Regions from separate parts of the Homo sapiens genome. Here all the other regions are linked to region 2. The links come from fine-mapping of genetic effects on gene expression. A gene starts in region 2. Each other region holds a variant in brackets. All regions are shown on one strand. Distances are between the middles of the regions. Region 1 overlaps WNT8B (Wnt family member 8B). Region 2 holds the start of SEC31B (SEC31 homolog B, COPII component). Region 3 has its middle 31 kb from the start of LINC02681. Region 4 overlaps WNT8B (Wnt family member 8B).

What was found.
Region 1: its variant is fine-mapped to the expression of SEC31B in whole blood (TOPMed, PIP above 0.99).
Region 3: its variant is fine-mapped to the expression of SEC31B in Th17 cells (Schmiedel 2018, PIP 0.95).
Region 4: its variant is fine-mapped to the expression of SEC31B in whole blood (INTERVAL, PIP above 0.99).

What each region holds. Positions count from the first base shown.
Region 1 is chr10:100,483,176-100,491,314 of GRCh38, reverse strand. It overlaps WNT8B (Wnt family member 8B), which reads right to left. Exons shown (of 6, transcript NM_003393.4): 6 at 7,571-8,139. SEC31B (SEC31 homolog B, COPII component) reads left to right here. Exons shown (of 26, transcript NM_015490.4): 20 at 432-609; 21 at 993-1,307; 22 at 1,554-1,612; 23 at 1,917-2,063; 24 at 2,341-2,457; 25 at 3,217-3,288; 26 at 3,520-4,668. The coding sequence ends at 3,699. Among named protein-coding and RNA genes, the nearest start is that of WNT8B, 24 kb to the right of the region's middle. RefSeq lists enhancers at 4,803-5,578, 4,738-6,230, 5,579-6,355. The variant G/T (reference allele first, on the strand shown) is at 3,664.
Region 2 is chr10:100,516,739-100,524,877 of GRCh38, reverse strand. It overlaps SEC31B (SEC31 homolog B, COPII component), which reads left to right and starts at 5,017. Exons shown (of 26, transcript NM_015490.4): 1 at 5,017-5,096; 2 at 7,881-8,004. The coding sequence starts at 7,926. NDUFB8 (NADH:ubiquinone oxidoreductase subunit B8) reads left to right here. Exons shown (of 5, transcript NM_005004.4): 5 at 949-1,138. The coding sequence ends at 1,041.
Region 3 is chr10:101,290,856-101,298,994 of GRCh38, reverse strand. No RefSeq gene overlaps it. Among named protein-coding and RNA genes, the nearest start is that of LINC02681, 31 kb to the right of the region's middle. RefSeq lists enhancers at 648-717, 758-827, 6,996-7,535, 7,536-8,075. The variant G/AG (reference allele first, on the strand shown) is at 4,774.
Region 4 is chr10:100,468,902-100,476,901 of GRCh38, reverse strand. The region is part of intron 1 of WNT8B (Wnt family member 8B); the gene reads right to left. Among named protein-coding and RNA genes, the nearest start is that of WNT8B, 9.9 kb to the right of the region's middle. The variant T/C (reference allele first, on the strand shown) is at 3,780.

The sequences.
Region 1 (8,139 bases), 34 kb after region 2:
CCAGTGAAACCATCTAGGCCTGGAGATTTCTTTTTTGGGAGCTTTTAAATTACAAACTCAATTTCTTTAATGGTTATAGGACTATCCAGATCTTCTTTCATTGTGACTGAGTTTTGGTAGTTTATGGTTCTTGAGGAATGGGTCCATTTCTGATAAGTTGTCAGATTTATGAATGTAAAGTTTTCTGTAGTATTCGTTTATATTTTTAATGGCTTCAGGGTCTGTTGTAATAGTCCCTGTTTCATCTCTGATGATGATTTATATCTTCTTGCTTTTTATCTTTATCAGTTTTTAGATGTTTATCAATTTTATTGATTTTTTTCCTCAAAGAACTAGTTTTTGTTTCATTAATTTTCCCTATTATTTTTCTGTTTTCTATTATTTACCTTTCTCTTTCCTTTCCAAGAGCTGATGTTTTTTTCTCTTCATAGGTCCCAACTCCATCTCCAAGGCCAAGGGTTTTCACCCCTCAGTCATCACCAGCGATGCCCTTGGCACCTTCCCATCCTAGCCCTTATCAGGGTCCCAGGACACAGAATATAAGTGACTACAGGGCACCTGGGCCCCAGGCCATCCAGCCTTTGCCTTTGAGCCCTGGGGTAAGGCCTGGTGAGTGAGTCACTGAAGATCTATCTGGGCAGAGCACAGAGGTCTCAGGAAAGCAATTGGCATGGCCAGCATGGATTTGGGAAGCTGTATGTCTGTCTAGTGAGAGGAGCTTGGAAGTTGAAGTCTGAATTCCTAATGCTATCACTGGCTTCGTACCTTTGGCAATATACCAAAGTGTTGTGTTGCTTATTTCAATGCTATGGGATTGTTTTGAAGGTCAAATAAGGAATATAGTTAAAAGTATTTTGTAAATTATAGATTTCCATATACATGTATTAATCATTTATTATTTTTTTATTGCAATCCTGTTTCTCCCTGATATGCTCTGAGTTGCTCCTGAAATGAAGTTTAGTGACAAATGACCTATTTCTGTTCTGCTTCAGCTTCATCTCAGCCACAGCTATTAGGAGGGCAAAGGGTGCAAGTTCCTAACCCGGTGGGATTCCCTGGGACATGGCCTCTTCCTGGTTCCCCTCTACCCATGGCATGCCCAGGCATCATGCGACCTGGCTCTACCTCCCTGCCTGAGACTCCTAGACTGTTCCCTCTGCTTCCTCTGAGACCACTAGGTCCCGGCCGCATGGTCTCCCACACCCCAGCCCCTCCTGCAAGCTTCCCTGTGCCATACCTTCCAGGGGACCCAGGTGCCCCATGCTCTAGTGTCCTCCCAACCACTGGCATCTTGACTCCTCACCCAGGTCAGTCTTCCTTCCATGGATCCCTCTTCTGGGTTATTGCCTCCCCTGCTCCTCTCACTACTTTGGGAGTCTTTCCTCAAGTCAGAGGGCTAGGGCCCTGTTGGGTGGAGGGTGGCTGGGAGTGTAGATGGTCTGCAGAGGGAGGTATGGTGAACTCCAACTCAAAGAATGCTTCCAGCCTTCAGATAAAAAACTTCCAGTGTTTTTCACTATGCGCCGAAAAACCTCTATCTTTTTATTCTATAGGACCTCAAGATTCCTGGAAAGAAGCCCCAGCCCCCAGGGGAAACCTCCAGAGGAACAAGGTCAATGCATCTTTCCCTACCCACTCCCTCGCACATTCACCAATGACCACGTTCTAATTCCTTGGAGGATTCAGTCAGTCCTTCCCCTTCTCAGACTGTCCCCGCCCTCCTCCCACTTACTCTTCTTTCCTCAGAACCCTCTTCTTTCTCTTTCCCTCTTACACACATACACCAGTCTCCTCACTTCCCAGTTTCCCACACTCACTCTTCTGTCTCCTTGTTCACTGTCATTCCTGCCACTCCCCAAAACCAGAGCCATGGAGTCTCTCAGGTTAGACTCATGTCTTTCCTTCTGTCTCTTTAGCTGCCAGAGACATTTATGCCCCCAGCACCAATTACTGCTCCAGTTATGAGCCTCACCCCTGAGCTACAAGGGATTCTTCCCTCACAGCCCCCTGTCTCCAGTGTGAGTCATGCTCCCCCAGGAGTTCCAGGAGAACTCAGCCTGCAGGTGACAAGGACAATGTATTCCCCTCCCTTGGGAAACCTTCCAGCCCTCCTTGGGTGCAGGTCATGGTAGATGGGCCTCATTCCTCAAGGCATGTGCTGAGGGAGACTGGGGGCAGGTACCAGGTGTCCTTACTGCAGAGAAAGGGAGGCTGCTCATCTCCCCAACTCTGCTGTAATGGGAACAGTGTGACTGTGAGTCACTGGGGACTAGTCCTTAGGGAAGCCATGAGAAGGACAGCTTGCCCCTCTGGCCTTTCTCCCTGCTTCTTTATCAGCAGCTTCAGCACCTGCCACCTGAGAAGATGGAAAGGAAGGAGCTGCCCCCAGAGCATCAGTCCTTGAAGAGCAGCTTTGAGGCGCTTCTCCAACGCTGCTCCCTGTCTGCAACTGACTTAGTAAGTCTGAACCTTCTTCACAGTGCCCTCCTCGCACCCCTCGCTGGCTCCAGGACCCCTCAGCTGTGGACCAGTTCCTTGTGTGACTCTCTTCTCACTGCCCCTGGACATGCTGTCTCTATCTTGTACTTAATTGACGTCCATGTGGAGCTGGGGAGAGACTTTTGAGTCTGGTCTGAAGTCCAGCTCCTTGGTGGTAGGACCCAGCAGCATTGAGACCTAAAGGCAGCAGGGGTACTGGAAGGAGGGTGGAGCCAGGAGTGAGGAAGTCTGCCATTCCCCTGCTGGCTGTGTCGGCTTGAGCAAGTCACTTACCCTTCTTGGGCCTTCATTCCCTCCTCTGTGAAATGAAGCCATTCTAGCTCTAATATGCTGTGATTTTTTTTTTTTTTTTTTTTTGAGATGGAGTCTCGCTTTGTCGCCCAGGCTGGAGTGCAGTGGCGCGATCTCGGCTCACTGCAAGCTCTGCCTCCCGGGTTCAAGCCATTCTCCCGCCTCAGCCTCCCGAGTAGCTGGGACTACAGGTGCCCACCTCCATACCCGGCTAATTTTTTGTATTTTTAATGGAGACGGGGTTTCACCGTGTCAGCCAGGATGGTCTCCATCTCCTGACCTCATGATCCACCCGCCTTGGCCTCCCAAGGTGCTGGGATTACAGGCGTGAGCCACCATGCCCGGCCTAATATGCTGTGATTCTTTATGGCCCTGTGTGGTGTTAGACTTAGGGGCTGGGGTTGGAATCCATTTCTTTCCCTGCAGAAGACAAAAAGGAAGCTGGAAGAGGCAGCCCAGCGTCTGGAGTATCTATATGAGAAGCTCTGTGAGGGGACAGTAAGTACAGCTAGCTGTGCTCCCACTGCCTCCTACACTTCCACCATCACCATGGCCAAAGGAAGCCCAGTGTCTTTTCTTCCCATAGGTGTCACTGACCTGGGTTCCCCACAAAATACGTGCATCTTGCCTGGACTGGGCCCCAGAACTTAAGTCTTCCCTTATCCCTTCCATGCTGCCAGGGTAGGAGCTGGGTTGGGCTCACTAACCTAAGGGTCATTCCCTCCACAGCTCTCACCTCATGTCGTGGCTGGGCTCCATGAGGTTGCCCGATGTGTGGATGCAGGAAGCTTTGAGCAGGGCCTTGCAGTGCATGCCCAGGTGGCGGGCTGTAGCAGCTTCAGCGAGGTGTCCAGCTTCATGCCTATCCTGAAG[G/T]CTGTCCTCATCATCGCTCATAAGCTGCTGGTCTAAACCAGGCAGCCTCTCTTGCTAGGAGGCCACTTCTGCTGTTACATAACTCCTCCCTGCAGAAGAGGGGACTTCTGCAACAGATTCTGTTTCTTTTTCCCGACTCTTTTCCTTGCTGCCAGGTATGTGATGCTGTAGGCTTGGCTCCAAACCAGCTGAGTGCCTGCTTTTTACTCCTTTATGTCTGGCCTTCTAGGATCTGTCCAAGACACTCTCAGGCCTGGAGGCAGGGCATAGAATCAGTTCTTCACTCTCCCTAATACTACACTCTGTAAGGACCTGGGGCAGGATATCTTCTCCCCCAGGGATCTTCTATTTAAGTGGCTTCTGAGAGGGTGAACAGGATTGTTACTTTTAAGCCTACCTCTGCTGTGACCCATCATGTGGGTCTTTTGTTTCTCCCTTCTGTGGTTTATGAGCCTGCCCTTACCTTTTCCCTGCCTCTGACTTGGTATTTCCAGGTCCGTATTTCTCTGTAGCCCAGGGTCTGGGGTAGAGCTGACTGCTGTTCACCCTTTGAACAACTCATGGACGTGAGGGATGGGTGCTGAGCAGAACCAAGAGAGGAAACTTTGGCGCTGTTAAAATGGAATTTCTCATCTGCCGGCATTATTAAGGGTGGGCTAGGTTGGATGGAAGGTGAAAGGGATGAACTGCCTTTTGCTGGAAGCTGTCTTAGGCTGTGAGACAGGAGCAGGGGAACCACAGCCTATGGGGAACTGCCCTTGACTCCACCTATGTTGGAGCCTTAGCCCAAGGCCATTCCTTCTGTGATGATAAAGCCCAGTTCTGGAATTGGAGCCATATTAAGGAATGATTCTCTTCCAGCGCTGCTCCTCAAGGGTTGGGGGTCCTTCTCCCTCGCAGCCACCACATGTCTCAGGGCTACCTTCTCCGATTGGATTTGCATTTGTGGCACTGTCTTTGATGCAGTGATGTACTTAATGGTGCAATAAAGCTGCTTCGATTTGGTTTCCTCTGTCATCTCCCAGTCATTGCCTCCTCTGGGTTCTATTTTGCCATTACCTTTCTAGTCCTCTTTATTCTTGCTTCCTGCACCCTAGTAAGGCAGGGGAGAGGCTTAGGGAGAGATAAATCAAGAAAGTTAAAGGAAGGTGTCCATTCCCACTGAATTAGGTTCTCTCCTTGCAGCATTTGTGGTCACTCTGCTGGGTGTGTTGAGGGTGGGGGGATTGTCTCCCTTCATCCGTGCCTGGTGTTCAGTTCCAGGGTTTTCCCTACCCCACTTCAGGGCTGAGCTCAGCTATACAAAGGGACTGGGTGTGAAGCCAGGGGATGCTAGCCCTAATCCTGTTGTAGATCCCATCATGTCTGCGGGCTAGATGTGTGTGTGTTTGGGAGGGAGGGATTGTTAGGCAGTATTTGTTTGTAAAGCCACTTGCTCTTCAGATAATACTTGCACTAACTTCTATTGATGAAGCAGTGTGAGCCCTAGCAAAGTCCTTTCCCAAAGTGTCTTTGAAGCCAAGAGCCCATTGAAGGGAAGAAAGGCCGGGAGAGGGGATTAGTTTGTTCAGCAGCTGTGAATTTCAGTGGGAGGTTGATGAACTCCGAAGTCTTTGTTTAAATTAAAGTGGGGGAGAAAAAAGCCGCTGCTGGAGCGAGAGCCCCACTTGGGGCCCTGAACTAACACAAGGAGAAGTCTGAGCTGCAGGGAGCTGTGTACTGACTGCGAAGACTTTTCCCAAACACTTTCGGAAAAGGTGTTGTGAGAAGACAAGGGGGCGGAGTGGCGGATTAGCATGTGAAATGAAGTTTTCATTGACTCCAGTGGGGGTAGAAGGCTATTTTAATGGCATTTTGTTCTCCTATTTTCTCTTCTTGAGCTCTTTAGAGATATTGTTTTGCTAAGACAGGCTTTCTTCCCCCTTCTTTCCAGTCTGAGGATTGCCTCTATGGGAGCCAACATAAATATTTCTCCTCCAGGAATGCGGGTTAATTAAAAGGAAATGAATGAGTGGAAGCATCCAATCCAGACCTACAATAGGCGAGTGCCCTGGCCTGCCCTCCCCTCCCACCACCGCCAGCACCACCAGCGCCGAAGACGACCCCGTCTCTGTCTTTGCCCTAACCTGCTGCTAAGGCCAGTTGAGGCTGCGATTCTTTTCAAAAAGAAAAAGCTCTGCCTGTGTTTAGGCTCACAGGCCAGGGACAGGAAGGAGACAGTGTTTTGCCCACCCCAACCAATGTCCTTGTCACTTCTCAGGGCCTCCCTCTGTTTCTGTCTTCTGGCTGAGACAGATGGGCTCCTGAAGAGCACACAAGAGGTGGAAGGGGCCTGTGCTCTGCACTCTCCCCACAGTAACTTACTAGTTGGGGGAAGAAGCCAGTCATCTTTCTCAGCATCAGTTTAAATCTGTAACACAAAAGGTTTGACTGGCTGACCTCAAAGATGTCTTCCCAAGCACCAGTTCTGGAGTTGTCTACTTTGTAAAGGGACCACGGCCCTGGCAATTGAGTGTAAGATGAGAACTTAAACTCCGTGATGCAGCAATGGTGGTTGTTCACCACTATCTCTACTCTGGTGTTTGTTGAATGAACAAATGAACAAGTGGATATTGCAAAAGGAAGGGAAAAGCAATACAGATCCAAGGCATCTCAGTCATGTTTTCTTGGTAGAACTGGAATGAATCTGGTATCCATTTGGGGGTATAAAACAATAACCTATGAAATAATGTTCTGGCGGCATGACGTATTTAGAGTGCTGACCTGGAGTTACCAAATATGAAGCACAATAGTTCTGCTTTTATGCTAAGAGACCTGGAGAATGTAGCTTTACTTTACAACATTGTGCTTTTAAATTTTCTAGCTGCCTTGCCAAACTTTCTTCGTGTACATTATAAAGTAATTCTGCAAAGTGGGACAGGTAGGTTAGTATATGCTGCTTCTTGATTAAGGAGAAAAGGTGAGTTGGGAGATTCAGGAGGTTCAGATAAAAGCAGAGGGAAGGCGTGAAGGGCCTTTTGCTGAGAAAGCTGGAAATGAAGCACTAAGAACACCTGAAAGGAAGTGTATCCCCGGTCAGGAAGGGGAAACTCTCTCCTCAGTAAGTGTTGGTAAGACCAGAAGGTGTGTGGGTGAGGCCAAGGGTTTGGGATCTGACCTGGCCATTGCCTTAGTTTGGAATACGGGAACCCTTGACTCTTACAGGTGAACCCCTAGAGTCTTGGCTTTTGTTGCCTGGAGCCAGCCACACTGCTTTTCCTACTCTGGGAGAGGAAGGTTGAGGTCGTCTAGCATCTGACCAGTTCTGCTCTAGAAGAGCTGCCCAGCCCCAGACCTGGGACTGTCCTAGGGCAAGGAAGCTGGCTGGGAAGCCCCTTGGGCTACAGAGGGTCTGTCAGGGATTGGTTCTTCCCTCCCCAAGGTCTTGCTCTGTTTCATAAACAAGTCCCTGCTGTACTCTCTGAGAATAAAACCAGAAGACTCAAGTACCACAAGCAGCAAGCTCATGGCTCTTGAGTGAATGTATTAGAAGATTTAAATAGATGATTTACTAATCCTTGGCAGCTTAGCCTCAATCCAGATAACTGCTTGGGCCACCAGGGAAGTGAGGCTTTAGGGAGGATGGTATCCTGCCAAGATGGGAGGGAGGAGAGAGCCTACAGGTTGTATCTGTTACCACAGCCCACCCGAATATCCTCAAGAATAAGTGCAGTACCTAGAAAAAGAGCACATATCACAATGACTGCAATAAATTAAGGTTCAAGGTGCTGAACTTCCTACTAAGCAACAGTTTCATTGCAGGAAGTTTACTCATTGAAGGAAGATATCCAGTGCTCTGAATCCTGCCTGTTTGAGAACCAGGTTAGTGAGAAGGAAGGGTCTCAGTTTCTCCTTCTTAGGACCTGCCTCTAGAGGTGCAGACCAGGATCTGAAGAGGAAAGTGGCTTTATTTACCTCAGTCTTGGCTCAGAGGAACAAAGATCCTTTGGAGAAGAAGAGGTAAAGTTGGTTGCTAGGAGGAAGTAGGTCAGGAGAAGGGAGAAGTTACCTTTAAAGGGTAGGAAATGACTGTAATCTGCCCTTAACGTATTTCCTAGACCTTCGGGGTATGTATCTGGAGTCCCTCGGGTTATTGTCTAGGAAAGTCATTGCCCCACTAGTAAAGTCCATTCATGATATGATACCATAGGGATGAGTAGCACCCTTGGTGTTCAAGTTAGCACTCCAGAGCTCCCTCTTCCATCTTCAACCTCTGCCTCTAGGAACCAACCCCAAAGACATGCTTTTCCGGGGCCAGTTTCCTCAGTTTTTCTGGGAAAGGAAAGGGAGAAGAGGAGAGAAAGCATTCAAGATTCCTGGGGAATCTGGCTCAGCAGGTAGCAGGGGAGGAGCTGTGCAGAAGAGAGGTGCAGCAGTGGGTGAGCCCTGGTAGCAGACAGTGGGCAAAAGGGCAAAGCTTTGACTTTACCTGGGTCC
Region 2 (8,139 bases):
TGGGGATACAGTGATGACTTGGTCTGCCTCTAGGTGGCAGGGAGCCATTTTGGGTTTTCGAACAGAAAAGTGACATAATGAATGCTGAGTTCTTAGGAAGATTAATCCAGGAGTAGTCTCCAGGATGTACTGGAAGGAGAGAAGCTGAAAGCAGGGAGGCTGCTGTGTTTGCAGTTGGCTGCCCAGTGCTACCTCTGCAGAGACAATCAATGTCCTGAAGGTAGCTGGTATGTCTGTGTGCACTGACACGAGCCTTCCTACCAAGCCCCAGGGGCTCCATGCTGGAGAATGCACGTAGGGCTAGGGTGAGCACTAACTTCACTTCAGGAGAGCAAGGAACAGTGTGGCTCTTCCATTTTTCAGTTCTGTAAGCACATCACCCTTTTCTCCTCCCCTTGAGCTGTGTTCTCTGACAGCTGTTTGTTGGTAAAGCCAGCAGCCCCTAAAGCACGTCCCAGCCTTGTCTCCTCTGTGCTTTCCCCCACCACTGCTGCTGCACGCCTCATTTGCTGGGCCACTTTAGTGGTGGAACCATTAGAGGCTGAGTGACTTAAAGGAGATTGAGTCTGTCTCGACCCCGAGAGAGAGTGGGATGGATGGATGCATCGTCTCATTTAGAAAGTGTTGCCTCTGACTCTAACACACTCTTCTCTCTTTCTTTACCTCCCTCCCTGTCTTCCTCCCTTCCCCTCCTTTCCCTAACCCCCTTCCCTCCCCCTTTCTCCTTCTCTCTCACAGTGTAGGCACCACTTCTCTTACAATTTAGGCTTTCTCTCTGCCTTGGGCTGAGTGAGGAAGAGGAGTGCTGTTCCTGCCTTCCTAGCCCAGCTGGGTCTGACCAGAGGCTACTGTGTACCCATTTACCATGCGTGATTGTTAACTCAGAGTGGGGTGTAGCCAGGTATTGACTGAATGTATGTTCTTGCTGACCTGTGTTTTTTTCTGTAGGGACCAAAGCAGTATCCTTACAATAATCTGTACCTGGAACGAGGCGGTGATCCCTCCAAAGAACCAGAGCGGGTGGTTCACTATGAGATCTGAGGAGGCTTCGTGGGCTTTTGGGTCCTCTAACTAGGACTCCCTCATTCCTAGAAATTTAACCTTAATGAAATCCCTAATAAAACTCAGTGCTGTGTTATTTGTGCCTCATTTCCCCAGGAATAGTCACTGCCTTGAGGAACCTCATCCTTTTCCCTTTTTTTCTGCTTGATGTCTGCTGTCTTCCCTGTTTTCTTTTTCTGAAATTTAAAGGATAAGAGGGTGGGGTGGATGGGGACTTAGGCACAAAATGTTAATTTGTTAATTTCACTTGGGTTGTAAAGGTACTTAAGGGTTTTAGCTGTGTGGAGGTGTTAAGGGTCCCTCCTTTTCCCATTTACAGGGTCAAGGAAGAAATGTTCCTAACTTTCCAAGTTGGAACAAGATTTATTTCACATAAAAAACCTTTCTAGTCTGGGTCTGGTAGCTCACGCCTATTATCCCAACACTTTGGGAGGCTGAGGTGGAAGGATTGCTTGAAGCTCAGGACTTTGAGACTAGCCTGGGCAACATGACGAGACCCCATCTCTGCAAAAAAAAATTTCAGAAAATTCACTGGGCACAGCAGTGCGCGCCTGTGGTCCCAGCTGTGCAGCAGGCTGAGCTGGGAGGATCATTTGAGCCCAGGAGCGTGCAGTGAGCCATGTTTGCAACACTGCTCCAGCCTGGGCAACACAGCAAGACCCTGTCTCGAAAAAAACCTTGGCATGGCGTGGTGGCTCAGCCTGTAACCCAGCACTTTGGGAGGCCGAGGCGGGTGAATCACTTGAGGCCAGGAGTTGAAGACTAGCCTGACTAACACAGCAAAACCCCGTCTCTATTAAGAATACAAAATATTAGCCAAGCTTGGTGGTGTATGCTTGTAATCCCAGCTACTCCAGAGGCTGAGGCAGGAGACTCCCTTGAACCCAGGAGGTCAAGGTTGCGGTGAGATGGTGGCACTGCACTCCAGCCTGGGCGACAGAGCCAGACCGTCTCAAAACAAAAAAAAACAAAAAAAACTCCTTAATAATAGTGGTTACTTGGAAAAAAATGTGCTCTAACGTGTTTCAAGTATATTACAGGACTGATAAGTGTTTTTGTCCTGTCTGCCTAAGGCTGCGACTGCCTCTGATCTTATTTCCGTTATAAGAATATTCCTTATTCCAAAGCAGCTTCTGAATCATAGCTTCTTAATAAGTTGACATTACCTGTATTTATGAATTGGAGGACAGTCAGTGAGTTACTACTGAACATGTTCATAGCTTTGATTACTTTTGATGACTCATCCACACTCCTATAACAGTCTTAGAGAAAAACTATGTTTTTGAGAGTCTATCATTCATCTGTTTTTTGTTTTATTTAGAGATAGGATCTTCCTCTGTTCCCCAGGTGGAAGTGCAGTAGCACAATCATAGCTCTCTGTAGCCTCAAACCCCTGGGCTCAAGGGATCCTCCTTACTCAACCTCCCTAGTAGCTAGGATTACTGGGATGTACGAACCTAAGTTTCTTATTTTTTGTTGAGGTGGGATCTTGCTATGTTGCCCAGGCTGGCTCAAACTCCTGGCCTCAAGCAATCCTGCCTCAGCTTCCTAAAGCACTGGGAATACAGGCAGGAGCCACTGTACCCAGCCCTCATGTCTATTTTTAAGTGAACCAACCCATATTCCTTTGGGGACATATTCTTAAGTTACAGTATATTGCCGGAAAACCTGTCCCATAGAAAAGCATACATTTTATGTGACCAAAAGAAGCAAGTTCATTCAAATTAGATGTGGAGTCTTAGTTGTGCAGGCAGTGAGAGACCTTTTGTGAGGTCAGGGAGTGGATACTTGTGGAATGCTATTCTTTGAAGGTCCCCACTGGCTTTTTATCTGTCTTCATTCTCTATAGCATTTGATAATCATTTCCTTAACAAACACCTGTGTGTCTAATATGTATCAAACACTGATAAGCCCTGGAGATATAAAACTGAGCAAGACAAAGTAATCACCTTCAAATATTACATAGGAGACCAGCAGTTATAATACAAAGTGAAAATAATTCTTTATCATTATTACTATTGAGACAGGGTCTCACGCTGTTGCCCAGGCTGCAGTGTAGTGGTGTGATCACAGCTCACTGCAGCCTCTACCTCCCAGGCCCAAGCGGTCCTCTCACTGTAGCCTCCCAAGCAGCTGGGACCACAGGGATGCACCAACACACCTGGCTAATTTTTGTATTTTTTGTAGAGACAGGGTTTCACCATGTTGCCCAGGCTGGTCTTAAACTTGTGGGCTCAAGCAATCCACCTGCCTTGGTCTCCCAAAGTGTTGGGATTATGGGTGTGGGCCACTATGCCAGGCCAAAAAGAATTTTTTTTTTTTTTTTTTGAGACATGGTCTCACTCTGTCACCCAGGCTGGAGTGCAGTGGCATGATCTCAGCTCACTGCAACCTCTGCCTCCCAGGTTCAAGTGATTCTCATGCCTCAGCCTCCCGAGTAGCTGGGATTACAGGCACATGCCACCACGCCCAGCCAATTTTTTCGGTATTTTTTGGTAGAGATGTAGTTTCACCATATTGGTCAGGCTGGTCTTGAACTCCTGACCTCGAGTGATCTGCCCGCCTCAGCCTCCCAAAGTGCTAGGATTACAGGCATGAGCCACTGCTCCCAGCAAGAATTCTTAAGAGGTGTGAGTTGAGAAAGTGCACTTTTAATTTGGCTTAATCATGTCCTACCCGAAACTGTGACTTAAGCTTCTGGTTCAAATTTCTTTAGGAGTATTCCATCAGTAACTCTTCTGCCTCCTTCTCTCAGGTTTAGTTTTTAACCCTGTTTACTTTTCCTCAGGCTTCATTCCCTGTTGTGCCAGCTAAGAAGTTCAGGAAATACTTGAGTACTTAGTAGGTAGGAAGCGTGGGCTAGGCACAGATAATGCACTGAATTACCTTCTGTCTAACTTCAAAATTGCCAGATCCACATGGAAGGGAACTGGAGTCGTGTCACAATGAGTTGGGCTCCATCATGATAACTGGCCCCCCATCTTTGGAGGTGTATCAGGCAGGAATACAGAGAATTCATGCGTTAAGCATAAGTTTCTAAGATTTAAAGCTGCCTACAGAATTTTTTTTTTTTTTTTGAGATGGAGTCTCTGTCACCCAGGCTGGAGTGCAGTGGCGTGATCTCAGCTCACTGCAACCTCCACCTCCCGGGTTCAAGCTATTCTCATGCCTCAGCCTCGTGAGTAGCTGGGACTACAGGCCTGCACCACCATGCCCGGCTAATTTTTATATTTTTGGTAGCGACGGAGTTTCACCATGTTGGCCAGGCTGGTCTCGAACTCCTGACCTTTGGTGATATGCCCACCTTGGCCTCCCAAAGTGCTGGGATTACAGGTGTGAGCCACTGCACCCGACCTGTCTACAGAACATTTTTATTTGGAAGTGGCACAATTTCTTCAACATAAAAAATACATTATCGGCTGGAATATCACCTGTGTTCTTGCAGCTCCAGAGGATAACACCCCTCCTATGTTCCTCAAATATTTCAGGAAGCCCCTGGCCCTGTAGTCTCACCCTCCATACACTTATAGCCCTTAATTCAACCAAGTTTTGGGCACCAGTTTCTGCTGGGCTGCAGTGCAACACTCACTGCCATTTACAGCCTCGATTGCTTTTTACGTTTTCAACTAAATGGATTCCACTGAGGGCTCCTGGGGCCAGGGCCGGGTCTTCTCCCGCTTCAATACATAGATAATGAGTTAGTATTTTCCCTTTTCAGAGACTGGCCCTAGAGCCTGGCTCAAACTGAATAGACCAGAACTTACTGGTCCAGATCTGACCCGCTGCGCAATCACAGGGTAGGTGAGGGAGGCCCGGTTAAAAGCTATAATCCTGTTTGGAAACGTTCTCCGTGGGTCTGTCAGTGTCTCGGGCTCGGCGCCCGCGGAGCGTGTTTCCGACGGTGCCCTGCCGGGGTCCGCGCCGCTTTGGTCCTCCGCAGCCGCCGTCCACAGCGCCCGGCTCCGCGCGAGAGCCCTGCCAGAGGAGCGGCTCCGGCCGCCGCGCCTGACCCTTGTCCGGGGTCTTCCGCACAGGTTGGTTCGCCCCGCCGGTCTGGGGTCCCTGGTAGCAGAGATTGCGCTGGGGACCCGGAGCACTGCTCCTTTCTCGGCAGAGCGCGGAGGGGAGCCCGCTTGCTGCGGAGCCCCCGGCCCGCGCCTGCCCTGCCCGCGGGTCCGGGCCTCGGGGGCCTCCACTACGTCTACCCTTGAATTGGATCCGGCTCTACTGTCCCTGCCGCACGGGAACCCCCAGCCGGATGAGGGTCTCCCTGTTCACTGCTGCCTTGCGCCTTCCCATCCGCCTTGGTCCTGACCTGGCCCAGCCGAGGCCGTCCGGTGTCGCTGCGTTTGGGCTGGGCGGGAAGGTCTGTCATTGCTGACCCTGGCGCGCCGCGCTTCGGCGACAGCGGGAAAGAGGCTGTGCTGACCGTCCTCCCTAGGGACTGGACTGCCAAGGGTAGCTGGTGCCCTCCTGCACGGCAGGTCTGTCGAGCATTTCATTGGTCATCTCCCCCTCACGCCCCCATGGCCAATCTGACCCCAGCGGGGGCCCTTTTTTTGTGAATAGATGCCTCTTAACAATGTGAATTAAGAGCCCATTTTCCCAGTTCCTAGACTGTCAGCGATTAAAACACTTTCTAGGGTTTACTTGCGACTAGTACAGTGGTTAGAAATACGGGCTCTTGATGCTGATGGGGGTTCACATCCCGGCCTAGCCAGTTGTCATCTCTAGAAAATGGGGATAATCATAGTACTTACCTGATAAGACCACTGAGAGAATTAACTGAGATATGCACATCAAATGCACAGCTGCTTATCGCAGCTCCTATTTTTGTTGTTAGGGAATCTTTTCCCAGAAACATTAAAATGGCTGTGACCAGCAGGTGGCACTGGTGACTGTATAGTAGAGTGTTGAGCTGGTCACAGAATACGTGATAGTAGCCACAAGTGTTTAAAGGTGCTTTGGAAATCTTGGCTTAATGGGCAGGCTTAAACTTTCTTCACGCTAGAAAGTACCTTAGAGATTAAGTAATACTATCTCCTGTTTTTGTAGGTGAGACTGATCTGACTATAGCTTACTCAAGCAGGTCACAGTAGGTCCCAAGCTTTCTCCTCAAGTTCAGTGTAATTTTTAAAAATCATTTCTACCTGTTTGCTAGCCTGTTGGGATGGGACCTTGAATATACATTGGAATTAGATCAGAAACCACAGAGTTAAAATGGATGTCCACATTCGAGCTTTTACCATATGCCAGACATTCGTTTGGAAACTAGTTACAACATGGTGAACAAAAGCCGACACAGTGTCAGCTCTCATGGAGCTTGCATATTAGTGGAAGAGACTGACAATGTCAATATAAATAAATATGTAATTATAAATTACTAGGAAGAAAAAAACTGAGGCTTTTTGTGATTGGGTAGTTCACTTATTTGGGGAAGTAAGCTGAGCCCAGAAAGATATAAGGAGCCAGTCATGTCGAAAGTGAAGGGAAGAGCATTCAAAGTATAGGGAACAGCATTTGTAAAGGCTCTAAGGAAGGAAAATGTCAGGAAATTAAAGGCTAGTGTGGCTGAAGCACAATGAATGAGAAAAGTATTAAAAGATGAAGTTGAAGTGGTAGGCTGGAGCCTTTGGGCAGGGCTCAAAGAAGTTTGAATTTTATTCTGTGTGTGATAGAAATCATTGAAAGATTTTAAGCATGGAATGCCAAAATCATTTTTTATTTTAGAAGTTCACTCCTGCTGCTGTGTAAAGAACGAATTGGGTAATGGCTTGAGTAGAAAGGGGATAGCTAGTTGGGAGGTTGTTGGAGTACTCCAGGTGAGAGATGATACAATCAAAAAGGCTGTTGGCAGCGAAAATAGAGAAAAGTAGACAGATTGAGATATATTTTGGAGGTTAAATCAAGGAGACTAAATGATGGATTAGAAGAGAATGAGGGAGAAGGAGGGATCAAGAGGGATTTTCAGGCTTCTGGGTTGAGCAATTGGGTGGATAGTGGAACCATTTACCAAGATGAAAAAAACTGGAGGAAGAACAGAAGAGATTGTGACTTTGCTCCTTTCTGAAAAAAACAAATAAAAAAAGACCATAAAAGATGGTAGAATAGAGAACTCCATTTTAGACAGACTAAAATGGGAGTTCCCTCCCCCATTAAGTATCTACTATATCCAAGTGAAATATTTGATTGGAAATTGCGTATAAGCAGCTGATCACTTGAGGTCAGGAGTTCGAGACCAGCCTGGCCAACACGGTAAAACTACGTCTCTACTAAAAATACAAAAATTAGCCAGGCATGGTGGCACATGCCTGTTATCCCAGCCACTCGGGAGGCTGAGGCAGGAGAATCACTTGAACCCAGGAGGCAGGGGTTGCAGTGAGCTGAGATCGTGTCACTGCACTCCAGCCTGGGTGACAGAGCAAGACTTGGTCTAAAAAACGAAAAGAAATTGCATATAAGAACTTGGAGCTTAGAGGAGAGATTTGTGATGGTGATATAAATTTGGGGATCATCAGCATATGGGTGCTATTTAAAGCCAAGGAAATGGACAAACATCACTGAGAGATTGTCTGGTTTGATGGTTATCACCACTGGACCTGTGGTAGCCATTGTGGTTGAGTATCATTTGAGGTTTAAAGCATTACATTTCAGTAATTGGGTGAATGAACTATCTTTAGATCTGCAGATGGTCATGTATTTGTCACTCTGTGTTGCCCTGAAATGCCCTATCTTGTGATGGAGAAAGACAAACAAGAACTCTTGTCCGCAGATGCTCCCTGGATCTGGCTGTTAAGTTTGCTGGTTTCTATTTTCAGTGGGCTGAGGGCCATGTCAGTTTTCTGCCACCTACAGGATAGACCATGAAGCTGAAGGAACTTGAGCGGCCAGCTGTCCAGGCATGGAGCCCAGCCAGCCAATACCCTTTGTATCTGGCCACAGGTATGGTGACACTGTGAATTAGGATCCACTGGGAGTACATAAGTTGAGGGGAAACTTAGTATCTAGAATTATTTATTGAACATCAGAGAAAGCTCTCAGATCATAGAAAGATAGGGTGGCTCACAGCATAAGCAA
Region 3 (8,139 bases), 770 kb before region 2:
AGGTCTCATTCTTCTTCCCCTCTGCTGTTAAGTGGATGGGGTAGGTGGGAGTTGGGCTGCTGATCCCAATTTCCCCTCTCCCTCGAAAGCCTGGACTCACCCACTCTCTCCAAATTCAATTGTCCTTGATGAGATCCACTCTCCCACACTGAGCTTCCCTACCCCCTCCCAAAAGGGGCCAGGGAGACTAAAACAGGTTCTCTCTGTTTTGCTCTATTGTTTTTCTTCTTTTCCCCCACCATGTTCCAGGACCCAGGACATGCTCTGCCTTGCTCTAAATCCTAAACTGGACAAGCTTAGGGTAGGAAGAGTCAGCGGCGACTGTGGCTTCCTACCCATTTTCTTATTTGCGTGAGCCTGGCCTTTCAACCTGTTGTGAGGAGGTAGGATGTCAGGACAGTGGGGGTGGGAGACTGAGTATTTTGACCTTGCGAGGCCTGCCCCTGTCTTTACCCATTCCCCGCCAGCCCTCAGTGCCCTTTGAAGGTTTATAGTCATATAAATCGCAGAGTCCCATGCCAGGCTTGGAATTTGCAACTATAAATAGGCAGGAGGTAAACAAGGTGGCAGATGCAGGGGCTTGGGACAAGACGGAAAATCTGCCCCTCTTTGCCTGGGCAGGGGCCAAGGCACATCCGTGGAAAGGGATATCTTCCCTCCCTTCTCACCTCTCCTCCCCTGCCTGCTGCCTGCTGGCTGCCTGTGCTCTGGGCTTCTAGTCTTTTCCCTCTAGGCATTTATCCTCCAAGGCAGCTTTCTGCTCCAACTCTCCCTGGCCACCTGCCCTGTTTCATCTTGCCCTGAGTCAAAACAGGGCGGAGGGATTGCCTCCATTAGGCTCTGTGCCCCTCGGCCTCCCTCCAGCTGCTTCACACTTTATCCCGTGCTCCTCTAGTGAAGTCTTAAGGAGGTGCCGCTTCTGCCAACCACCAGCCTCCACCACTAGGGGCGCCCTGATCCCCTCTCCATCCAGCCAAGGTGATGCTAACATTTCTCAAGCAGGAAACCGTATTAGGAAACTCTGGGGAAACAAAGCAAAGACCCTCACCTCCCACTCATTCCCTTCTAAAGCACAGAACGTGAGAGTGCACAGATTTTATGTTGCTTAGGCTGATGGACACCTGCCTGGCCACTTGGAGTTTCTACCCATGATCTCTGGGCTGTATGAGCCAGATTCTGAGCAAAGAGTCTGAGTTTGAAACAATTTAGGTAGCATGCTTTCTAGATCCATCCCTGCCTTCTCTCTGCCCCAGGGTCGGGCTGATTTTATGCTCTGTTTTGTCCTGGCCCTGGCAGGTTCCCAGCCACCAACAGTCCTCTGATGAATGTCAGGCCCCGCTGGCCCTGCAATTACCTCTGTTCATCCCTCTTGTAAGAATCTGGATCTTCAGCCCTGAAATTCCTTCTTTCATCCTAAACCTGGGCTCTCCAATCACACTCACCCATCGGTTTAGAATCACAGAAACTAGAACGGAAAGAAATCTTATTTTTTCTCATTTTACAGATGAGGAACCTGAAGCCCAGAGTGGTGAAGTGACTTTCACCTCAGTTACACAGCTCAGATTGGCTTTGTTGCTAAAGTTGGAAACACTCCTCTGCCAAGCTTGGCTTCTCCACCTAGACCTTAACTTCCCAGCTCCTGCTGGCTTCCTTGGCCCCCCAGAAGCAGAGTAGCCACCTTTCAAAGGTTCATTCTCCTTTGCACCCTACATCTACCTGGCCTCTACATGGGGAGAGAGAAAGGACAGATTCCAAATCTCAAGAAATGGTTGAATTATATGTGGCTCCGTTTTCCAGTACCTTCAACCCCCCATTTCCCTGAGTCCTCTCTGATGGCTTATCGGGCAGATGTTCCTGGAGGAATGACTTCCCAGAAGCCCATCTTCATAAAGCCTTGAGGAGCATCCTTCCTGCTGTGGGAAGCCACTTCCCTGGCTGCTCCTTTATTTTTCTAACGAATGTCAATTTCCTAAATTGGATGGCAAGGTGAGACCGAGTGCGGTTCCTTGAATGGTGTCACTTATTCCCTGGGTTTGCAATGCTCAAGGGAGCACATGTGCATGCACACACATGTATATGCATGCACTCATGTTCTCATCGCCATCCTGTTCAAGGGGTCTGTCTTTTTTTTTTTTTTTTTTGAGTCAGAGTCTTGCTCTGTTGCCCAGGATGGAGTGCAGTGACACGATCTTGGCTTACTGCAAGCTCCGCCTCCCAGGTTCACGCCATTCTCCTGCCTCAGCCTCCTGAGTAGCTGGGACTACAGGCACCTGCCCGTTAAATTTTTATATTTTTAGTAGAGACGGGGTTTCACCGTGTTAGCCAGGATGGTCTTGATCTCCTGACCTCGTGATCTGCCCATCTCGGCCTCCCAAAGTGCTGGGATTACAGGTGTGAGCCACCGTGCCCAGCCAAGGGGTCTGTCTTAATCTATTTCTGCAGCCATAACAAAATACCTGACACTGGGTAATTTATAAATAATAGAAATTCAGGCCAGGCATGGTGACTCATGCTTGTAATCCCAGTACTTTGGGAGGCCAAGGTGGGAGGATTGCTTGAGCCCAGGAATTTGAGGCCAGTCTGAGCAACATGGTGAAGCCCCATCTCTACAAAAAATACAAAAAAATTAGCTGGGTGTAGTAGCAGGTGCCTGTAGTCCCAGCTGCTTGGGAGGCTGAGGTGGAAGTATCGATTGAGGCCAGGAGGTGGAGGGTGCAGTGAATTGAGACTACGCCGCCGCACTCCAGCCTGGGTTACAGAGTGAGACTCTATAATAATAATAATAATAATAGTAATAATAGGAATTTGTTCTTCACAGTTCTGGAGGTGGAAAGTCCAAGATCAAGGGGCCAGGAGATTTGGTGTCGGGTAAAGGATATCTCTCTGCTTCATACGTGGCACCTCTTGCTGCATTCTCACACGGCAGAAGGGGGAAAAGTGGCAAACAACTCCCTCAAGCCCTTTTATAAGGGCACTAATATTGTTTGTGAGGGCACGACCTAAGCATCTCCTAAAGGCCCCACCTCTTAATGCTATTGCGTTGGGGATTCAGTTTCAACATGAATTTTGGAGGGAAACAAACACCACAGCAGGGTCTTAAGCTAGGAGCAAGACCAGAATCTCTGCATCCATGTTTCAAATGAGTCACAAGGAAAGGAAGACAAATACAGGAGTTGATCTGGGAGACAGATAGGACATGAGTTCCTGTGGTTCACTGAGGGCAAAGGGAAGGAGGTGGCACAGGTAACTAAGGTAAGTGGGAGTGTTCTGGCTCCCTGATGGGTGGAAAGGGGCTCCCTTTCCACTGGGCTGTCAGGATGAATGAAATCTGTAGGTGAGAGGGAAGATGCTGATGGCAGTCAGACAGGGAGAGTTCTGAGAGGGAGTCCAGTTACCGCAGAATACTCCCATCCTACAGCTGGACTGGAGTTCCCAGTGTGCCATCTGGGAGTGCCTGGGATGTGTGTGGGGCAGCTGGAGGGATGGCCATCATCTATCCAGCACCTGTCCTGCCCCCAAAGCGGATGATGTAACAGTATAACAATGTGGCAGAGGACAAGGGGGGTTTTGTAATGTTTCTCTGGGGGAGGAACAGTCCAGCTTTCAGCGATATGGCTGGGATAAGGCAGCTGTTGTCTGTGCTGTGAGCTCAGAAGAAGCCCCTATCCCTTCAGTGAGCAGTCTGAGCCTGGGTCCGCTCATCTTCATTCCAGTCCTTTAATCATGGGATGGCTCATGACTCTCCTTCCAAGGAACAGAAATGATTTGCGCTGCACCTGTCAGCCACATAGACTCTAATCAGAGATCAAACAGGGCACAGAAAAGACCCTGCCCAGGAATGAAATGTAGACCTTCCTATGGGGTAGGGGACATTCAGGCCCTGGAAGAATCTTTTTTTTTTTTTTTTCCTTTTGAGATGGAGTTTCGCTCCGTCTTGTGCCCAAGCTGGACTGCAATGGCACGATCTCAGCTCACTGCAACCTCTGCCTCCCAGGTTCAAGCGATTCTCCTGCCTCAACCTCCTGAGTAGCTGGGATTACAGGTGTGCACCACCATGCCTGGCTAATTTGTTGTATTTTTAGTAGAAATGGGGTTTCACCATGTAAGCCAGGCTCGTCTCGAACCCCTGATGTCAGGTGATCCACTCTCCTCGGCCTCCCAAAGTGCTGGGATTACAGGCGTAAGCCACCATGCCCGGCCAAAAGAATCTTTATCCTAGGTCCCCAGGCATTGCCTCCTCCCGCTCCACACCCACATCCCATCTCCCTGGTCTTCTGATGCCCCTCATTTGCCCAAGTGCCTTCAATTTAGGCCTCCCGCAAAGGTCCTCTTCCCACCTTCTACCTGGTCTCTCTGGAGGGCCTCACCTTGGTCTTCAATGATCCTTCATCTTGGCCCTCCAGAGAATCTCACCAGGATTCCTTGCAAACACTTTGGATGTGATCTTGCCTATAGATTCATTGTCCACCATTGTCCAAGTTCCCTAGATGCTTTGCTAACCAGGCTCAGAGAGCAGACTGGAGAGTTAGGTCCTTTATCGCCCCAATCCGACCACTTTCCCTCCTGCCTCTTCATTCAAGCTCCCCAGCTGGTCATGCCCTAGAAAAGCAATCTCAGCATCTGCTTTCTCACTCTCCCTTTCCTTATCCATAACCAGAAACCCTAGATGGGAGGCTGAGACAAGAAGATCGCTTGGGACCAGGAGTTCAAGTCCAGCCTGGGCAACATAGTGAGACCCTCATCTCTGAAAAAAAAAAAAAAAAAAAAAAAAAA[G/AG]GAAACCCCCAGTGTCATTCTCCAAACTATTAGACTGTTCTTGAAGGCAGCAGCCATAACTTACTCACTCCTGTGCCTCAAACTCAATACTTCAAAAGTTAAAGGTTCAATAGATATTTATTGAAAGAATCAGTCCTCGGCCGGGCACTGTGACTCATACCTGTAATCCCAGCACTTTGGGAGGCTGAAGCGGGCGGATCACCTGAGGTTGGGCGTTCCAGACCAGCCTGATCAACATGGAGAAACCCCGTCTCTACTAAAAATACAAAATTAACCAAGTGTGGTGGCACATGCCTGTAATCCCAGCTACTCGGGAGGCTGAGGCAGGAGAATCACTTGAACCCGGGAGGCGGAGGTTGCAGTGAGCTGACACCATGCCATTGCACTCCAGCCTGAACAACAAGAGCGAAACTCTGTCTCAAAAAATAAAAAAGAAAAAAGAAAAGAAAAGAAAAAGAAAAAAAAGAAAGAAAAAGAATCAGTCCTCAAACTTCTCCAGTATATTTCCTTCTTTTCTCAGTATACTGTCCTGTCAAGTTCTCAACAACTACACTCTTTTATTCCCAAGGCAGCTTTTGAGGAGCTGTTCAGAAGCATTAACCTCTTTCAGTCCCAGATCATGAGGGGGAATGCGCTGATATCCAGGTCTGGGACCGGGAGCTGAGCACATGGCCCGCCTGCCTCGCCTGAGCCTGGAGGCCCCAGGCGGGATTGTCTGTCCTCACTCATCCTTGCCGCCAAGGCCTCCTCGCCTGTATTTATATACACTAAAGCCTCTGCTCGAATAAAACATCCATGTAAAATCCAATTTCCTCAGAATCTCTTTTGGAGCCTGGGCCTGAGATGGAGTAGGTAACCCCGGCGGTAACTGCCTGAACCACTCCTGCCGGCTGCAAAGGTGAGGCCCATTTTTCAATTATCTATCTGCTGTGACAGCAGCGGTCCAGCCACCGAGCCAAGGCAGGGGGAGGGGAGAGGCAGAGCTGGGGAGGAGGGACAAAGAGGGCAAGGGCACGGTGGGGGAGAGGGGGAGGGAGAAACCTAGGGAGAGGAGGCACAGGGAGAGACCCTTGCGCCTGGCACCCAGTAGGTGCTCAAGAATTATTTGGAAAATGAGTGATCAAAGAGTGTATAGGGAGGGTGGGGGTGAGATCTCCTCCTCGGAGAGGGGGAGAGCTGGAGAGACACAGGGTGGGTGGAGACAGAGAGAGGGCGGGAGAGGTAGGGGGAGGGGAGGCGAGCGTGGATGGAGCCAACAAGAGGCTCCTGTGTCAATCCGTGGAAACGGGAGGCAGAGTGATGCGGTCACAGCTCCTGCCATCAATATCCTCTAATATAAATGTCAGTGATGCTATTTTCCGCGCAGTCATTTCGCACACTGCTGATTACATTAACGTATAATGGAGGGGCGCCGGCTCCACTGCTTTCTCCCCTAACCCTCCCCCCGGTGATGTGTCAATAGCCGCCTCCATGAACAAGTCAATTTTCTGCAGGCTTGGCAGCGGAATAAATCTGCCCGGCTATGGGGAGAGCTGGAGATATTTATATACCCGGCGCCTGCCTTCCGTGTGCGCGCGTGCGTGTGCGCGGCGGGCGCGGGCGCGGCCGCGGGCCGGAGCGGGGGTAGGGGGTGGTTCTGGGGCGCGCCGCCGAGCTGAATGATTTCCAGCCCCTACTCAATAAGAGGAGAATTTAGAGCGGTCCCTGAGCTGGGCTCCCAGAAACAGCCTTACACGTTTATTTTCCTTAGCTGAACAGGAAAGAGGAGAATTATATGTGGATTTATAGGACAGGCGCAGCTCAACCCAAATGCTCCCGCTCCAGGGGGCGGGGACGAGGGGGAGGGAGGTGGCAGGCCGGGCGCCGGCCGCTGGGACCCTCGCTCGTGCCTGCGTTGGTGGGGGCACACCCCCCTCGCCGGTCGCTTTAATTACATTTGTTCTCGTCCTTCGTGAGGGCGAGACTTCGGCGCGGCCCGCGTGGGGGGCGGGAGGAGGCGCAGGCCAGGACTGCCTGGAGGGGGGCGCGGGGAATGGGAACGTGGGGAGCCCGGGAGGGGGTGCTGTCAGCTTTTGCTCAGAAGCGGATCAATAGTACGAGATCTAATGGGCTAACTGCCAAGCGGGTGCACCGAGGCGCTGCCCCGCGGGGGCGGGAGGCGGTGGGCGAAGGACGAGAGAAAGGAATGGGGGTGGGAGAGGGAGTGAGGACGGGGAGGGGGGAAGGGCAGGAAGAGTGGAAGAGGTGGGGGGAGGAGGAAGAGAGAAAATAAAGAAGGGGAGAGAAGGCGAGCGGGAGCGGGAGGGCAGGGACAGGACAGGACAGTCTTCGTAGGGGCGTTTCTTCACAAGGGGGATCCTTTCCTGGAGCTGCCAGACGCCGCAGTCGCCAGCCGCCGGGCCTCAACTCTGTCATTGAGCCGCCAGGGGGCGGCGCGACCCTGTGCTCTCCCCGCGGATCTCAGGGTCTCCTCGCTGGGGCGCGAGTGACCGGTCGCCGCCGATGATTGGTCCCTGCCCGGCGCCCTCTGCCCTCTCCCGGAGGCCTCCCGCGTGGCAGGGTGGGCGTACGGCGACTCCCCCCAACTCCTGCCCCAAAGGAAGGAACCTTCTGGCTTTCCTGGTGTTGGCCCTGGCGCCCTGGGACCCTAGAGCCCCGGGGAAGCGCCCAAAGGCTAGGTCACCGGCCCAGGGCTGGCCACTGTCCCCGGAAGACCCCCAAGGCCGCGGCCGACGCGGCATGGAGGCGCTGGGAGATCTGGGCCTTCGCAGCCCGGCTAGGGAGCGTGGACGAGTCTCCGGGACATCCTGCGCGAAGGGTCCTTCTGTGCGTGCTGCGCGGGCGCTAACGAGGCCAGCCAGAGTCACCAGGGATGAAGGCTATAGGGCCCGGTTTTAACTCATTCGGTTCCTGGCCATTGACTGTCCTTTTTTCAGTTCTGGGGCCTCATCCCTTCCCAAACTGAGAAAATAAAATACAGCCCAACACCCTCAATGGCAAGTTTAGCCACCCTGGAGAGGGGAGCCTGGTGGTGACGGCTCAGTGTTCTCGACCTGGCAGGATAGCAGAATTACTTGAGGGAGATTTTTAACATAAGCGTGTTTACCCGCACGCATGCATTGTAAGAAGCTTGTATGTAGAGGCAGGGCTTCCTGGAAGCATGCCCGGTGTCAGAGCTCCCCCAGATAACGCTGATACAGAGTCCCACATGAGCATTACCTGAAGAAACTGCCTGGAGGTGCGGCACTGGGAATGGGAACATGGGGAGACCAGGAGTGGGGCACTGTCAGCTTTGGCTCCAAGCAGATCAATAATAGTACAAGATATAATGGGCTACCTGCCAAGTGGGTACACTGAAAAATGTCA
Region 4 (8,000 bases), 48 kb after region 2:
GGTGAAGTCTGAATAAGCTTCATGGATATCGTACTAACGTTGTAAGATGTTCACACTGGGGGAGGTTGGGGCAAGTGTACATGGGACTTCCCTGTACGTTTCTTCCCTGTACATGTCTTGCAACTCCATAATTATCTAAAAATAAAAAGTTAAATATATATGTACATATACACATGATCTGCAGGGCTAAAGACTTGGAGAATGACTTCAGTATAGGCATTTGAAAATCAGAATCTATTATCTATTATCTTTGTTTTTCCATTATAATGTGAGAAAGTAATACGGGAATCATTATGTATTGTTCCATGCTGGTGTACCCCTGCAATTCTGAAGGCCAATAAGATGCTGAACATCACCAGAAAGGGGATTGGAAATGAAATAGACCAAGAAAGTTTCTTGTCAGGCCAAAAGAGCTTGGCTGACTTTCTTCATAAAAAACACATACAACACCAAAAATGTGAGTAGTTTTTGAAAACCAGTATTAACAAACTAAGAGGCTGCCATATGAGATGAAAAAGATTCTAAACGAGTTGTAATAGAATTTTAGAAAATCAAAAATACTATGAAGTCTATCAAAACTAAGGCCTATTTTTTTTTTTAGACGGAGTCTCACTCTGTCACCCAAGCTAGAGTGGTGCCATCTCGGCTTACTGCAACCTCTGCCTCCCAGGTTCACACCATTCTCCTGCCTCAGCCTCCCGAGTAGCTGGGACTACAGGCACCTGCCACCATGCCCAGCTAATTTTTTTTTGATTTTTTTTTTTTTGTATTTTTAGTAGAGATGGGGTTTCACTGTGTTTGCCAGGATGGTCTCGATCTCCTGACCTCGTGATCTGCCCTCCTCGGCCTCCCAAAGTGCTGGGATTACAGGCGTGAGCCACCGCGCCCAGCCACCAAGGCCTACTTTTTAAAGCTTGGTAGGCAACCTTAATTCAACTGAAAAGAAGCACTGCTTGATCAGGTGTAGTAGCACCAGCAAAACACAAAAATACAATTCAGAATGACTTAAATGAATTCACAATTTCCAAAGCCATTATAGGTTTGGACATGAATTTCTGATCCTTAAAGACATGTCAGAGGAGTCAGCCAGGCCCCTTTGCTTTGGGGAAAGGGGCCTGAGCTTGTTCCCACTCAGAAAGGCACTTTTTATGTTAGGAATAACATTCAAAGATTTTGGACATTACCAAGCCTGACAGAGCTAGTTCCCATTTTCCATAAGACAGAAATTATCAGGAAAGAAAACAAAACAACAAAGCAAATTGAGTGACAAAGAAAATGCTTTGCCATAGCTGGGGTGAAGAGTCTTCCTGTGAAAGGAGTCTAAGCCGGAACTACAGGGAGTAATAGACAGAGATTCTAGAGAATTCTTTCCTGGAAGATCCTACAATATGCAAAGATTTGTATGATATCCAGGTCAAGCCCAACTGATCAATGAATGAGACTTAATTGAGCACCTGTCATGGAACAACACTATAGGCCTTATTTGGACAACATTCCTATAAAGTGACTTGTGTTTTTGTTTTTTTTGTTGTTTGTTTTGTTTTGTTTTTGGAGACAGAGTCTCACTGTATCTTGCTCAGGCTTGAGTACAGTGGTGTGATGTCGGCTCACTGCAGACTCCACCTCCCGGGACTTGTGTTTTTCTGTTTGTTTGTTTTTTGAGACGGAGTCTTGCTCTGTCTTGCCCAGATTGGAGTGCAGTGGCATGATCTCGGCTCACTGCAGCCTCCGCCTCCCGAGTTCAAGCAATTCTCCTGTCTCAGCCTCCTGAGTAGCTGGGATTACAGGCGTGTGCCACCACACCCAGCTAATTTTGTAATTTTTGTAGAGATGGGGTTTCACCATGTTGGCCAGGCTGGTCTCGAACTCCCAATCTCAGGTGATCCGCCCACCTTGACATCCCAAAGTGCTGGGATTACAGGCGTGAGCCACCACGCCCAGCCAACTTGTGTTGTTAACCTCCGAGTTATTTGCAGACATATTTGAACCTTATGGCTAGCTTGTTCATATCCAAAATATCCTATATTAAGAAAAGACTCAGCTGGGTGCAGTGGCTCACGCCTGTAATCCCAGCACTTTGGGAGGCCAAGGCAGGCAGATCTTGAGGTCAGGAGTTTGAGACCAGCCTGACCAAAATGGTGAAACCCCGTCTCTACTAAAAATACAAAAATTAGCTGGGCGTGGTGATGCACCCCTGTAATCCCAGCTACTCAGGAGGCTGAGGCAGGAGAATCACTTGAACCCTGGAGGTGGAGTTTACAGTGAGCCAAGATCGTGCCACTGCACTCCAGCCTGGGCGACAGAGCGAGACTCTGTCTCAAAAAAAAAAGAAGACTGTCCTGTAGTGAGTACCAAAGGAGGAGGATCTTGTTCTTGGTCAATGAAACAATGACATGATTTCCTTTTGGGGGTAAAATATAGATTGCAGAAAACATAGTGAGTATTGTGAGAAGATGCAAAGAGAACCAAAAAGGAAGGAATTTAAGTGTTTGTATGGGTGCCACCTCTATGTGGCAGTTATGTGATTGAAGGAAAGATGCTAACAAACACTGAAGATGTAAATTTAAGATATAAATTTTGTTTAACAAATGGAGGCTGCTATATAGACAGAACATGGTAAAACAGTATACTCCCAGATGGAGGTACAAGCTTCCCATTTCCCATGAGGTTGTACAGTTGCTGACAATATTACCCAGATTCAGGACCATTCAAAGGGTTCATGACTTCCTGAACCCTCCCAGCTCTTCTCAGACATTTGCTTGAACTCTAGACTTGCATATCCAACTGTATTCTTGGCATCTCTCCTTCAGTGTTTAATACGCATCTCAAACTTAACGTGTCCAAAACTGAACTCCTGATCCTCGCTGCCATCACCCAAGCCTACCCCTTCTGTAGTCTTCTCCATCTAAGTAAAGGACTGTTCCTCCTAGTTGCTCAGACAAAAATCATGAAGAGTCACCTTTTTTTTTGTTTTTTAAGACAGAATCTTGCTCTGTTGCACAGGCTAGAGTGCAGTGGCGCCATCTTGGCTCATTACAACCTCCACCTCCTGGGTTCAAGCAATTCTTGTGCCTCAGCCTCCCAAGAAGCTGCGATTACAGGCATGCACTACCATGTCCAGCTAATGTTTGTATTTTTAGTAGAGATGGGGTTTGGCCACGTTGGCCAGGCTGGTCTCAAACTCCTGACCTCAAGCAATCCGCCTGCCTCAGCCTCCCAAAGTGCAAGATTACAGGCATGAGCCACCATGTCCAACCCATAATAGAATATTTTTTGACCATATAAAGGAATGAAGTACTGGATACAAGCTACAACATGGATGACCCTTGAAAATATCATCCTGAGTGAAAGAAGCCAGACACAAAAGGCCATAAATGATATGATTCTATCTATATCAAATGTCCAGCATAGGCAATCTCATGGAAACTGACTAGATTCACAGTTTCCAGGGACTGAGGGGAGGAGGAACGGGGAGTGAATGCTAATAAATAAAGGGTTTCTTTTTGAAGTGATTAAAATGTTCTAAAATGGATTGTGGTGAAGGTTGCACAAATCCATGAATTGGCTAAAAAAAATCATTGATTTGTTAAAGGGTGCCTTTTATAGTATGTAGATTATATTTCAATAAAGCTATTATTTAAAAATCTCACTTATTCTTGAATAAGTACCAGTGCAGAAGCCACAACCAGCACACCTTGAAGCCTCACAGCAACTTTTCTCTGTTTCATATGAAGGTTTCCCTTTCCTCTTTTATACTTAAGTATGGGCTGCCTTAATTA[T/C]CTCTGTATACCCTCCAGTTCCTAATCTAGTACTTTGAACATAGTAAGTGCCTATAAAAGTGAATTGAATACAAGGATTTTGAAATAAAAAAGATAGACCATCAGATGCAGCAGAAAATGTAAGGAGAAAAAGAACTGCAAAAAGATTTTGAGAAATATAGGAAGCCTGTGGCAAGCCAGTGCTCCCACTAATTTTTTAGTGTAGTGAGCAGATGACTGTGCCACATTAGGAGATGATCAACTACAAGAGTAACAGAGTGAACACTGAGCATATGTACACAGAGGTTAGTGCTATAATCAAACCTTTAGCAAAGTTAATCTGACACACTTAGTGCTGTGCATAATTGTTATTGTGCTTCATAGTAATTAGGCATAAGTGGTAAGCGATTTACATAAATAACTGTGGTTAGTTGTGCTTTTACACTGCCAAGTCAAAATTTTACAATTGTTTCTTCTTCTTGTGTTAGCTGTCCAGTATACGTGTGTGTGTGTATACACTGATATAAAGTTTAATCATATCATGTAATAATAACTAGCATTTATTCAAGTATGTGAGGAACTCTTCTAAGTGCTTTACCTGTATCATCTTTTTAAATTTCCGTAGCAACTCCATGGGGTGGGTACTATACTTTTCACTGAGTGTTTATTCTGTGCACACGAAGTACTTTTATTTATTTATTTAGAGAGAGGGACTTGCTCTGTTGTCCAGACTCAAGAAATCTTCCGGCCAGGTGTGGTGGCTCATGCCTGTAATCCCAGCACTTTGGGAGGCTGAGGCGGGCGGATCATGAGGTCAGGAGATCGAGACCACGGTGAAACCCCGTCGCTACTAAAAATACAAAAAATTAGCTGGGTGTGGTGGCGGGTGCCTGTAGTCCCAGCTACTTGGGAGGCTGAGGCAGGAGAATGGCGTGAACCCAGGAGGCGGAGCTTGCAGTGAGCCAAGATCGCGCCACTGCCCTCCAGCCTGGGCGACAGAGCAAGACTCCATCTCAAAAAAAAAAAAGAAAAAGAAATCTTCCCACCTCAGCCTCCCGAGTAGCTGGGACTACAGGCACATGCCACCATGCTGGCTAATTTTTGTATTTTTAGTAGAGATGGGGTTTCATAATGTTGGCCAGGCTGGTCTTGAACTCCTGACCTCAAGTGATCTGCCCATGTCAGCCTCCCAAAGTGCTGGGACGACAGGGATGAGCCACCGCGCCCGGCATATTTTTATTTTGTATTTTTTGTAGAGACAGGGTCTCGTTGTGTTGCCAGGACTGACCATGTACTTTGAAGTGTTTTACATATTTTAAGTTCATATAATGATCACAATTATATGAGGTAGAAACTATTATATCTTTCATTTTACAGAAACAGAGACTGAAACATAGAGTGGCCACCCAGCCTCACACAGCTAGGTAAGTGGTGAAGCCAGGGCTGGAGCCTAGGCAGTCCTACTCTAGAGCATGCACTCTACCTGCTGTGCTTTTCTGCAGCCCGTTTTTCCCTTGCTCTTATTCCCACTGGCTAATCCAGGACTCCTAATTCCTGAAAAATTCTTGGTAAATATTTCTGAGCGGCCTAAGCCATGTTTTGCACACACTCATGAATACACTCAGTTAATTATCACATTGTCTCTGCTACTTTTTTATCCTTTCATTACACCAGCCTACTGCTTCTATGTCCACAAAACAACCACATCTGCCAGGGCACAGGCCCTGCTTTATCTGGGTAGCACGACATCCCCTGGGCACATTTTCTAGGCACTGTTGCTGCTCACACTGGGTTCTATGTATAAAAGAGTAGGGAGAAACAAATGCTAAAGGACACTGTAGGCAGAGGTGGGGAGGGGATACAGTGTGTGGCTTCATGACAGGGATATGTTTTGAGAAATGTGTCGTTAGGTGATTTTGTCACTGTGCAAACATCATAGAATGTACTTATACAAACCTAGATGGATAGCCTCCTATACACCCATGCTATATGGTAGAGCCTATTGCTCCTAGGCTACCAGCCTATACAGCATGTTATTGTACTGACTACTGTGGGCAATTATAACATGATGGTAAGCATTTGTGTATCTAAACAAAACATAGGCCTGGCATGGTGGCTCACGCCTGTAATCCCAGCACTTTGGGAGGCTGAGGCAGGCAGATCACCTGAGGTTGGGAGTTTGAGACCATCCTGGCTAACACGGTGAAACCCCATCTCTACTAAAAATACAAAAATTAGCTGGGCGTGGTGGTGTGGACTTGTAGTCCCAGCTACTTGGGAGGCTGAGGCAGGAGAATCCGCTTGAACCTGGGAGGCGGAGGTTGCAGTCAGCCGAGATTGCGCCACTGCGCTCCAGCCTAGGCGACAGAGTGAGACTCTGTCTCAAAAAATAAAATAAAACAAAATAAAATAGAAAATAAGAAACATTCTGAATATGAATCTGCAGAATTTGATATTTTCCTCTTACCACCCAGGACTTTCATCTTAGTGCCCTGTGATTTTGTTTTGTTCTGCCTCTCATCACTTTCCCCACAAATCTTTACGTAGTATTTCTGGCTTCTCCCCAACCTTTAATCCCATCTCTTAATGTCCATAAAATGTCTCTGAGTCATCAGCTGGGCATGGTGGCTCATGCCTGTTATCTCAGCATTTTAGGAGGCCAAAGTGGGCCGATTGCTTGAGCCCAGGAGTTTGAAACCAGCCTGGGCAACAGAGTGAGACTCTGTCTCTACGAAAAATAAAAATAAAAATCATAATAAAGATGGATAAATGGGATGGAGCTCAGAAAAGAGGATATAATGATGATATTTTAAAAAGGCAATGAGACCCTGTCTCTACAAAAAATACAAAACTTAGCCAGGTATGGTGGCATACACTATAGTCCCAGCTACTCAGGAGGCTGAAGTGGGAAGATCATTTGAGCTAGGGAGGTCGAGGCTGCAGTGAGCCAAGATTGTACACTCCAGCCTGGCTGACAGAGTGAGATCCTGCCTTAAAAAAATTGTCTCTGAGTCATGAGGCTCAGTTTGGTCTACTTTAGGAGAGAGACATCTGATTACCGAAATTGGAGTGCTGGCCCAGGGGAAAGGAGAAGTGGTAGTGAATGAATGTGAACTATAGATCTCCATCTGAAGATTTAGCACAGAAGGCATATAGGACAAAGGGCTAAAGGCTAAGGGGAGGGTATGGAGTAGGGAAACTGCCAGGGGCTATAGCTGGAAGGTTCTCCAGTGATGCAGCTTTCTCATAGAATGAGTTCTGACAGCAGCTTTTCAGTCCATAGAACTCCCAAGATGCCTTGGGCTGGGGAGAGCCCAAAGATAGCTCTTCTGAGTGAGTTTCCTTGTGACTGTCTCTGTTCCACAGCATCCACACATCTGACCTGTAGAACACATGTGCACGAGCAGACACAAAGGTATGTTCACACGTGTGCCCACACACACAGTTACACAGAAAGTAGGTCTTACTAATAACTGTGAAATAATATCCCGTTGGTCCCCAAATTTTCTTCACTACCTTATCTGATAATACCTGAGGGGATTGAACTTGGAACTATTCACTGTACAATTTGAGAGAGTTAAGTTTAAAATGCAAATATTTTTCAAGGGTGAAAAGCATGACTAATTCTTACCTATTCCAAAGTATTGAAATCAGGCTTTCCTATTTAACTAGGGGAAGGGATTAGGAGGTAGAAGTTACAAGGTATCTGAAGTCTTAAAGGGAAGAGAAGTATTCAGACTTTCAAAATCAGATTTCCTCCTACTTAAAAATATGTCAAGAGGGAACAAAGCTGGTATCAGTGGAGGGATCTATTTAAGTATGGCAATAGAACACAAGCCAGATTGCAGAGAGTGAGGAGTTATGACATGAAAGTAGCTAGTGCTAACTGGTTGGGGGAGGATGGCATTGAAAGAAAAAAGAGAAAGGAGAAATGATTGCAGTAGAGATTGGGGCCAGAGGAAGGTATTTTTCAAGATGAGTATAGAAAGAAAAATTCAGGAATGTGTAGCTTTTGGTCATATTCCCATAACTATTTCACCAAATTAAAGTCCATTTCTTTCTTCAAAGGGAGTTCAGCCCTGTAAATCATTCTAAAAATGTTTTTTATAAATGTGAATTTTTTATATAATGATGCAGTGCCCTAAAATATGAAAAGAGAAAACAAGTCTTGTAAGCCAATTGACAAAAAAAATTTTTTAAAGTTAAACAGATGTGACAATCTTAGCAGTAGTCCTTATATTA